4 separate regions of the Homo sapiens genome follow, and all the other regions are linked to region 1. Evidence: fine-mapped expression QTL. A gene starts in region 1. Each other region holds a variant in brackets. All regions are shown on one strand. Distances are between the middles of the regions.

Region 1 (2,683 bases):
TTTCCAATGGGAAGCAATGTGAATGGGCAAGGAAGGAAAGCCCCAGATGTGGTCAGAATAAAGCAGACCGGCTGACAACTAAAGCCACGCACAAAGGATATGTCTCCCTGGCCTTCTTCTCCCCCGCTCCTATTTCGTTTAATCCTAACAATTAGGATAACTATCATCACCCTTCTACAGTTGCTGACTCTGGAGCTCAGAGGGGGAAAGATCGTGCTCCACATCACAACACCGGTAAACTCTCAGAACCTGCATCAAACCCAGGTCTTCAAACTCACCCCTCCTGTTTTTCCCAATATGCAGTGCTACCTTTCATGGTCGGCCCATTTCTGGGAACTTCGATACTGTGCTTCTATTGCTCCAGGTTTAAGGAGCATTCTGAGCCTTGACCGGTTCTGAGCTTTGACATCCAACAATCTTATGGCTCTGCTTGGAACATCAGTCATTGACACCTCTAAAAGATTCACTATCCCCTCTGATACTCCATGCCCACCATCCATCCCCAAAACTTCAGAAGAAATGAGGTTAGGAAACCAGGACAGAGCAGAAAGTGCACTGTTCTACAAGGGCTGAAGATGAGTCACAGGTAACCCAGATGAGCAATCAGCCAAGTCTCTTCCACGGCCAATTCATTCAGTCCGCCAGGCACAAGCACTTCTCTCCCGAAGACTCACCTGATAAGAACACCAAAGTTCCAACGTTTCTCGTTGGAAATGAGCACAGAGAGGACACTGCTCACACAAGCAGTGTGGACGCAGCAAGCTCCGCGCCCCGCAACCCTGCACCGAGCACGGTTAACCTCACACTCCCACAGGCGGCAAGAACCGGGACGGCGATGCCCAGTCCAGGCGCTTCCCCTTAGAAGCCCCTTCGCCGCTGGCCCCTATCAGAAAGGAAAGGGGAGGAGGCTGGGGGAGAAACAACTTTATGCTCATTTGCAAGACAGGACCAAAACAAAACCAGCAAACCGAAGCCCTTTAGGAACACCGCCCAGTTCACGGCGCGTGCAAGTTCCGAGGGCAGTTAAGTTTTTGCAACACTTCCCAGCCCTGACCCTGCCCAAGCCGCGGCCGGAGGACTGAGGAAGTGGACGGTCCCGAGCGGGAGGCCCGCGGCAGGAAGTGGAAGCAGAGCCATCTGCGGGATAGGGAAGGAACCGCGGCTACAAGGGAGAGGCGGAGGCCGCCCCCACTTCCTCAGCCCCAGGCAGCCCAGGAAGCCGAGACTCCCCCAGGGAGTCCTCCCGGAGCGGAGCGGGGCCGCTGCCGGGGCGTCGCCCTCCGCCGGCCTCGGGGCGCGACATGTCCTGCCGCCGCCCGGCCACAGCCCGGCACGGAGGGAGCAAGAGGCTGCGGGCGTGCGGCGTACCCCACTCCCCAGCCCGCGCCCCACCCCGCCCGGGGCCCGCGGGCGCCGCGCCCTTACCAGGGACCAGTCCCGCCGCCTCCGCCGTCCGCACCCGGCCCGCAGCTCTTAAACGCGCCCCGCCCCCTCCCGGGGCCGGACCCCAGCCGTCCTCCACCGATTTGTCATTGAGCTGCCGGGCTCGCTTTCCCACCCCCCGAGCGCGCCTCCGGCGTCGCCTAGGCAACCCCTCCTCTCGAGAGCGCGCCCTCGCTTCCGTTCTTGCCCTCTCCTCGGAAGCCACGCCCGTCGGGGGGCTGTCAGCCAATCCGAGGCTGATTTTCCAAGCAGCGGGCGGCCGGGGAGGAGGTTTCACCAATGAGAAGCTGCCCCAGGCACGGGGGGGCGGGCCCAGCGCGCCTGCCCCGTCCCCCTCTGTTTCTCTCTCTGCCCCTCGGACACGCAGCTGGTAACCCTGCGGCAGTGGAGGAGCTGCCCGCCGGTATTGAGGGCGGGTGCGGGTGCACAAGGTGGGGCGCCAGTTGTGGGATTCAGGCCAGGGCTAGGACGAAGTAATGGAAAGCAAAAGCGAAGGACAGACCTGATCATACAGAAACAGAAGAAAATTACGAGGTGGCGAAGAGTGCTGGAGCGCGGCGATGGGGATGCCGCCCGGGGGTCTTGGGGCGGGACTCCACCTGCCGCCACCACTCGCTTCGCTGATGACATCCCATTAGCAGTAATGGAGTTAGTGAGTGCATGGCGGAGACTGGACCCAGGCCGCCTACAAGGGCCAGAATCCCACCCCAGCCATAGCCTCGAGGCAGGAAGTGCAGTGGGCAAGCTCCCTGCCAAAGCCCAGGAACGTGTGATTTTGTATCCAGTACAGCTTCATCTCGGTGGATTTTCCTTCCTAACCACCTCCTCCTCCACAGGTTTTGTGACCGTGCTGACCCCTACGCAGACCTCATGAGAGTCACAAGCCATCGCAACTGACAGTTTAAACGTCTGCCTCTTATCTCTAAGGGAGGGAACTATCTCTTATGCAATGTGATATCCATGGCTGCTAGCACAGTGTAATTAATTCTTTCATTGTTGATCATTGTAAGTTAGGATGCATGTGTATACTATATTGGAGGCTTTGGGCCATGATTAGATTGCTATGTATCTACCAGATCCAGTCCCTCCATCAGCATCTATATCAAAAAGCACAGAAGCTTTACCTTAGTCTTAAGTGACCAACTTAACAAAAAAGTGCAATCAGAAGAATATCCTAGTGTTAGCCTACTAAGTATTCTGTTTTTACCATTCTCATTCACATTTAAAACTTTTATTGAGT
Region 2 (2,683 bases), 38 kb before region 1:
CTCCTGAGCTCAAGCAATGCCCACCTCAGCCTTCCAAGTGCTCGGATTACAGGCGTCAGCCACTGCACCCGGCCTAACAGCTGCTTTCAAAATGATAAAATCTTACAATAAGTGTGATGAAGGGTAAGACATATTTTTGCATATAACAGATCTATACATTTATAAAATTTACAAATATTGAGAGTAATAACAGCAAGCAGACTTTCTAGCATTTCCAACCACCAGGGAAGGGAAGAATGCCATAATGAGTCCCTGCTCCCAGGTGCTCTTGACACCCCTGCATCTGATTTAATCCTTACAAGGACCCCATGGAGGTTGGAACATCATTATGCATGACAGCTTTCCCAGCTAACTCCACAACAGCCACCCTGGGGAGGCAGTAGGATGGGAGAAGGAGGGCGTAAAGCATCAACAACTAAAGCTCCTGCACTAGGCGACTGAGAAGATGGAGGATGAGAGATGTCCTTCTGGCCACCCTATCCCTCCCCACACACACTCCCCCACCCTCAATCTCAGGACAACCACTCCTCCGACCCTTGTGATGTCAGCTGAGAGGAACTTTATCAAGAACTGATGAGACTTGTCCTTTGAAGGTCAGTGTGTTACTTAGATATGGATTATCCTTTTGTCACAGTAGTTTGGGTTTTGCCCTCTGCTACCAGCCATCATGCCAGAGGACTGATTATACCCAAGCAGACAAAATATGAATCCTACGAAGAGACATTTGAGATTTCTCATAGAGAATGACAGAGACTGCAAGTGTGGGACTGAGCACAGCCCTTATCTTCAGACATTCACACAAAACCACAAGCTCCTTCATGGCCACACCTTCTTCTTGGTGAAAAGCAAGATCAAGCCTCTGGAGTGTGGGGCTCCACATGCATTTACCACTAGCTCCAGGCACAGAAAAGCACCCCCAACCCCAGCCCCCAGCTAGATCAGGCCAACCCAAACATCCCTTCTTGCCAGCCTCTCAGGAAAGCACTGCCCAAGACAGCAACAGTGAACAGTTTCAAATGCTACAGGTTTGTCTTTTTGTCCTAACAGCAAAAGACAAGAGGAGGGGAATGGAGTGCATCCAACTTAAAATGATGACAAAGTTGTTCATGGGCTGATCTTATCACACCTTTCATAGAAATTCTTTACAAGTGAATACCATGCTGCCAGTCATAAGTCTCTGCTGGTTCCTGTTTGGCAGGTCAAGCTGGTCCAGCAGACAAGGGGAGATGACAACACAGACCCCCCACGCGACAACCCATCCAGGAAATACACATCCACAGTTCCAAGCTGAGAGAGTCTCCCTGATTTTTTTAAAATGAGCCATATTTCTGGATTTCCTGTGTGGTTTCCACAGCTGGAAAATAATTTAATAAAAATATTTTAAGTAGCACAATAATATAAGAGTGTAAGAGTTGAGAGATGACAATATAAAGAAAAGCTGACG[G/A]CGGAACACGCGCTTCCCATTGCAGATTACAACTAAACGGACTTAGGTTGTACAATATATGTATCCTATATGTATATCTATCCTATATGTATATGTCTCCTAAGATACATGTTTTTATGTACGATACATACAAATAGATGTATCTTGCCGAAGTGCGTCTAAAGCAAACCCCTTCTAATACCAACATTCTAAATACCAATGTTCTTCTAGCATCACTTCAAGTGAAAATAAAGCTTGGATAAAAATCTCTCCCTTGTCAGGTAATGAAAGCAAAGGGGAATGTTTCTGCACAAGAAAGAGAAACAGAAGACAGGATATAGGGGATTCAGATGCTGATGCTGCAGAACAAAAAGCAGACGTGTCCACTGTGTGGCTGCCAAAGTGCTATGTGCTTAGATTCTACAAGCACATGGATATGCAGTGAGAGCTAGTGAATGAGGTCAAGGCAGAAAGCCTCATCTTTAAGGCACAGCGTTAAAATTTTAGCTGTGTGGCAACCACCTTGAACTTTAATTTTAAAAAGAAAAAAGGCCTAACAATAGCAATCCCTGATAGGTGGATTTTCAAATTGTCAGCATTCATCATTGTCACTCAAGGTCACCCTTTTATTAGCTTCAGAGATTTGAATGAGAAAGTATGCTGGGATGGGATAAGAGATAAAAAAAAAAAAGAGATCCCAGAGATTTGAGTTCTGAGAGCAAATACTATTTAGAGACTACACTACAAAGATGGAACACTGTGGCTCTGTCAGTGAACAGTAAGGTGAAAAGAACAAATCTGACCAATAACTCAATGAGAGCAAAATCAAGAAGCTCCACGTATCTTTCAAGGGCACCTCCAGGGGAACCTCCTAGAAGCAGCCAGGCCCGCCCACCCTGCTCCTGAAGAGCAAGGCTGTGGAAGGTGAGAGCACACACAGAAGCTAATGACGTCCATCCCTCCAGCCCAGCCTTCACAAACCAATGGCCTCGTCCCACCATCCTTCCCAGGACCACACCAACAGTAAGCATAGTCCGCCGGGTGTGGTGGCTCACACCTGTAATCCCAGCACTTTGGGAGGCTGAGGCAGGCAGATCACTTGAGCCCAGGAATTTGAGACCACCCTGGGCAACATGGTGAAACCCCATCTCCACAAAAAACAGCCAGTGTGGTGGTGCACACCTGTAGTCCCAGCTACTTGGGAGGCTGAGGTAGGAGGATTGCTTGAGCCCAGGAGGCAGAGGTTGCAGTGAACTGAGA
Region 3 (2,683 bases), 32 kb before region 1:
TTATCAATGAAAATCTCTGAGTATTTATAGGAACAAAATTATATGTTCTTGATTATATGGAATAGCTTCATTGTTTTCGGGGACAGTAAGACTCTTAAAATTATTTTATTCAGAAATCACAGATCAGGAAAGCCCAAAGAGATTATAATCATCATAGTCTATAATGTGCCAAGATTCAGAAAGCCCCAGAAGATTCTTTAGACAGAATTATTCCTGAGAACAAGCTCAGCCCTCTCCTAGTATGCTCAGCCCCAAATTCTTCATAGGCCTAAGACATATGAGAAAAGGCAAAAAGCTTCCTGGGGGCTTCTGCTATTTCATTTCAGACATACCTGAATTCGGCAGTTGCTGTAAAGGATTCATGTTCTGTGATTGAGAACACAAGAAGAAACCCTTCCCCACTCCGAAAGTAGTTATCTCGAATGGCTGCGTAGTCCTCTTGCCCAGCGGTGTCCAGAATATCTATCTGAACTTCTTCCCCATCAAGAACCACTTTCTTTCTATAACTGTCAGCTTTGGTAGGTTCATAGTCTTCTACAAACTGAGGAAATAAACATTATCGGTAATTAACAAAGTCTTAAGGGGAACAAAATCTGCCAAAAAACAAAATTCCACATATGGGCACTTCACACTATGAACAGGACACTACAGAAGCAACATTTTACGTAACACTTCTGTTCTTTATAGCTCTGTTTTGCCATTTTTTGTTTTTAAACAATACAGGCAGATATCCCAATTTACAGATGAGGAAACCAGGCACAGAGCAGAACACTTGGCAATATTATTGTCAGTATAAAATTTTAATGCAAACACCTGCAAGGGTGAGAAACTGGAATTCTTTTTTAATTATACTTTAAGTTTTAGGGTACATATGCACAATGTGCAGGTTTGTTACACATGTATACACGTGTCATGTTGGTGTGCTGCACCCATTAACTCGTCATTTAACATTAGGTATATCAAAAAACTGGAGTTCTTATTCATAACGGAAGTATAAAATTCATCTGAAAAGTAATTTGGCAAGATGTATGATATGGTCTGGTTCTGCATCCCCACCCAAATCTCATCATTTAGGTTGTAATCCGAATTATCATCCCAATGTGTTGGGGAAGTGACCTTATGGGAGACAATGAGATCATGGGGGCGGTACCCCTATGCTGTTCTTGTGATAGTGAGTTCGTTCTCACAGGACCTGATGGTTTCATAAGGGGCTTTTCCCCACTTCGCTCTGCACTTCTTCCTGGCGCCTTGTGAAGGACATGTTTGCTCCCCCTTCTGCCATGATTGTAAGTTTCCTGAGGCCTCCCCAGCCCTGTGGAAGAAAAGAGGCTATACACCTCTTTTCTTTATAAACTACCCAGTCTTGGGTATTTCTTCACAGCATCAAGAGAATGAACTAACACAGTGTACCAAGAGGCTTTCAGTGGTGTGGGTTTTTGAGAAAGGAATGAAGTAGTACCAACGCACGCTGCAACATGGAACAACTTTCAAAACATGATGCTGAGTGAAAGAAGTTAGACATAAAGGCCACATATTGTATGATTCCATCTATATGAAATGTCCAGAATAGGCAAATCCATAGAAGCAGAAAGCAGTTGCCAGAGGCCAGGGGTGGGACGGGGAAGCAATAACGGGGAATGACTACTAATACGTAG[GT/T]TGGTTTTTTTTGGAGTGATGAAAGTGATCTAAAATTAGATAATGGTGATGGTTGCACATCTGTATGAATATACAAAAAAAACCTATTAAATTGTACACTTTAGGCCGGGGCAGGCAGATCACCTGAGGTCAGGAGTTCGAGACCAGCCTGGCTAACATGGTGAAAACCCATCTCTACTAAAAATACAAAAGATTAGCCAGGTATGGTGGTGCACACCTGTAATCCCAGCTACTCAGGAGGCTGAGGCAGGAGAATCACTTGAACCTGGGAAGTGGCGCTTGCAGTGAACCAAGATCGTGCCATTGCACTCCAGCCTAGGCAACAAGAGAAAAACTACATCTCAAAAAAAAAAAATTGTACACTTTAAAAAGAGCGAATTTCATATGTGCATTACATCTTAATAAGGCTGTGATTTAAAATTTTTTTAACTTAAAAATGGAATTGAAAATGTCCAAGTGAATTAAAGGTTATTTGAGGAAGACTGTTAAAAAGAGCCTTGTATTGTCAGTTAACAGCTACTCAAAAATAAAAATATTAAGACATGTTTAGTATTAGGTTCTCTTCAACGTGTACTAATAAATTATCTCCAAATAGAGATGTGAAAACTTGCCTGTGCTTTCAAGTGTCCTTCTTTTAACTCCTTTCCAAAAAGAAAAATACACGCCAAAAAAATCCAACACACGACTGTCCCCTGAAAATCTCTGAATTCTACCATAAATTATCTCAACTGTATATTTCTGAGCTTCCAAGGATAAAGCCAGCCAGAGTTCCACTGGCTCCTTTGACACAGAAGTCAGAATGTCCTGCTGTACCTACATACCTCTGTACTCAATGAAAAGTATGCTGATTACCCCAACATTCCATTACAACCCTGATGTTTATTTACATTGCTCAGCTGGAAACAGAAAATCACAAAGTCTTTGTATCCATTAGCGTGAACCATACGTATCCCCTACTGGCCTTGCAGAGCTCTGCATGGCTCAGTTTCAGATGCCCAAGAGTCTAAGACAAACTTCACGTGGACCC
Region 4 (2,683 bases), 25 kb before region 1:
CGAAGTATAACAATGGAAACGATGCAAGCAGAGATCTCTCACATCCCCGCCGGAGTTGAAATTATTTACCTAGAATCAGCAATCCAGATCTTATGCTGATTAGACCTTCCTAGGAAGCTATTCAGAAGCCACCTCAACACAGACTTGCTCCGTGAACCCCTGTGTACGGGAGGACCGGCACAGAAACAGCGGGAGCAGGGACACTGCTACGGCCAATGCCAAAGGAAGGTGGTCTGTGCCTAGCAGGGCTTACCTCGTCATACATGAACTGAAGCGTCAGGGCTGACTTGCCAACGCCTCCGCTGCCAACCATGATCACCTTGTGGAGGGCCAAGGAGCTCTGGCCCTTACTCTTGTTGGCAGCCATCTCGCTGGTCTTCTGAGGCTGTGACACACAGATGACCCACTGAAGAGCTGCTGATGACAAAGACAAAGACTTAGAGGCGATTTGCTTTCAACCTAGCTAAAACCAAATGTCATTCACATCCTCCATTAAAGCCTAACTAACCCAGACATTCCAACAGGAAAGTAATCCTTTCAGGCTCAGGGCAGACATGCGAGCCCTCCAACAACTCTGGAAGTCACTTACCCCAGCACAGCTGGGGCGAAGCCAAGGCTAGAGGGGAGAAACAGGAGCGCACACCCCACGCCCGCCTCACTGGGCAGGGTGGAGAGGACACCCAGTCACCAAAAATCATCAGACCCTCAGCAGGGCCTCACTGAGGCAGAGACCAAACCGCTCGTAGCTCCAGTTTCCTACCTCTCTGCTCGGTTCTCGGCTGCCGCGGAGAACAGCTTGGGACCTCAATCCCCAGCTCTTTAGCTTTACTCCTCGCTTTGCCCTCTTACCCTCTACCCCACAACACGCACACACTCACAACACGCTCACACACGCTCTCACATTCACACTCACAAACGGTCACTAACACACTCACACATGCCCACATTCACACACATGCTCACACTCACACACGCTCACATTCACACACACTCACGCTCTCACATTCACATTCACACATGCTCACACACTCGCACACACATTCACACATGCTCTTATTCACACACATTCACTCACATTCACACATTCACACTCGCTCACACACGCTCACATTAACTCACATTCACACACACGCTCACACTCATTTTCACACTCATGTTCTCACATTCACACATGCTCATGTTCTCACATTCAAACACACATATTCACACACTTGCTCTCACACGCTCTCACACACTATCACAGGCTCACACATGCTAGCACACGCTGTCATACATGCTCACATTCACACACAAGCTCACACACTATCACACACGCACTATCACACACACCCACATACACACTTTCACTCATAACACGTTCACAACGCTCTCACAACACTTTCAAATTTGTGCTCATGTACACTCACAAGCTCACATGCTCTCACAACACACACTCCATACACTATCACACACTTGTCCTCTCATAGGTGCACTCACGCTTTCACACACACACACAACTACACACTCACATACGCTCTAACGTTCACATGCTCATACCACACATACATGTTCATGCTCACACCACATACATGCTCTAACACATGCTCATATCACAGGCTCAGAGGCTCTAAC[ATG/G]CACATGCGTGTTCACATGCTCTCACACATACATGTTCACGCCACCACACACATGCTCTCACACACATGTTCACATGCTCACACCACACACAATCTCACATGCTGTAACACGTTCACAGAACACACACGCTCTCGCACATGCTCCCATGCACTCTTATGCTCTCATACACTTTCTCACACACACATATGCTCTCACACTCTTACACAGCCCCACACATCCCTCTGGTTGATTAAAGAAGTGAGTTCAAGAACAAATACCCCTTCATGACATGAGAGTTAAAAGGAGAAATCTCAAAATCAATTTGCCCTAATCAGAAGGAAGATAAAATGAGTAGAGCAACTCCAGTATTATGGGACAACAAAGCATCCCAAGTAAGTATATTTAACAGGGACCTGGAATCTACCGTAACCCAAGTGCCAATCTTTATTTTAACCAATTTGTATGGAAAAATCTATTTCACATATACCAAAACACAAGAATAAAGGGCAGGGCTTGGGCATCTGGCAGGCATGAGTGTGGTTCTGCCATTTGTGAGCTGCGTGACCCTAGAACTAGTTCAATGTCTCCAAGCCAGTTTTCTTATGTGCATAAAACCAACCACCACCTACCTTGCAGGAATGTTCTGAGGACTAAATAGGATATACATGGAAAACACCAAGGCACAGACCCAGCACCCAGTAGGAATGAACCAATGTTGTTTTCCATCCCATCTAATTGTAAGAGTGATACAGGAGGTAGAAAGAGACCATTTAGGCAGATAGTGAGGGCAAAGAGTCCTCGGCAGAACTTCCTCCTTTTTTTTTTTTCTTTTTTTTGAGACAGAGTCTCACTGTGTCACCCAGGCTGGAGTGCAATGGAACGATCTCGGCTCACTGCAACCTCTGCCTCCTGGATTCAAGTGATTCTCCTGCCTCAGCCTCCTGAGTAGCTGGGAATACAGGCACGCACCACCCTGCCTAGTTAATTTTTGTATTTTTAGTAGAGATGGGGTTTCACCATGTTGGCCAGGCTGGTCTCAAACTCCTGATCTCAAGTGATCCACCCCCTGCTCAGCCTCCCAAAATGCTGG

Direction of the effects. Positions count from the first base shown, and alleles are read on the strand shown. Sizes are in standard deviations (SD) of each study's normalised expression. Not every link is listed here.
For the expression in amygdala of the gene that starts at base 1,554 in region 1, T is the low allele of the variant in region 3 and GT is the other (small effect, 0.35 SD a copy in GTEx).

What was found. PIP is the estimated chance that this variant, and not a neighbour inherited with it, causes the effect. A credible set is the group of variants that fine-mapping cannot tell apart.
Region 2: its variant is the best candidate, but not a certain one, in a credible set for the expression of RALB in whole blood (INTERVAL, PIP 0.68).
Region 3: its variant is the best candidate, but not a certain one, in a credible set for the expression of RALB in amygdala (GTEx, PIP 0.76).
Region 4: its variant is the best candidate, but not a certain one, in a credible set for the expression of RALB in fibroblasts (GTEx, PIP 0.73).

Annotation. Positions count from the first base shown.
Region 1 is chr2:120,251,723-120,254,405 of GRCh38, reverse strand. RALB (RAS like proto-oncogene B) reads right to left here and starts at 1,554. Exons shown (of 5, transcript NM_002881.3): 1 at 1,426-1,554. RefSeq lists an enhancer at 502-771 and a silencer at 1,272-1,861.
Region 2 is chr2:120,290,064-120,292,746 of GRCh38, reverse strand. All of the region lies in intron 4 of RALB (RAS like proto-oncogene B), which reads right to left. Among named protein-coding and RNA genes, the nearest start is that of RALB, 39 kb to the right of the region's middle. RefSeq lists an enhancer at 1,541-2,236. The variant G/A (reference allele first, on the strand shown) is at 1,445.
Region 3 is chr2:120,283,732-120,286,414 of GRCh38, reverse strand. RALB (RAS like proto-oncogene B) reads right to left here. Exons shown (of 5, transcript NM_002881.3): 3 at 333-541. Among named protein-coding and RNA genes, the nearest start is that of RALB, 32 kb to the right of the region's middle. RefSeq lists an enhancer at 2,269-2,683. The variant GT/T (reference allele first, on the strand shown) is at 1,656.
Region 4 is chr2:120,276,349-120,279,031 of GRCh38, reverse strand. It overlaps RALB (RAS like proto-oncogene B), which reads right to left. Exons shown (of 5, transcript NM_002881.3): 2 at 254-414. The coding sequence starts at 367. Among named protein-coding and RNA genes, the nearest start is that of RALB, 25 kb to the right of the region's middle. The variant ATG/G (reference allele first, on the strand shown) is at 1,612.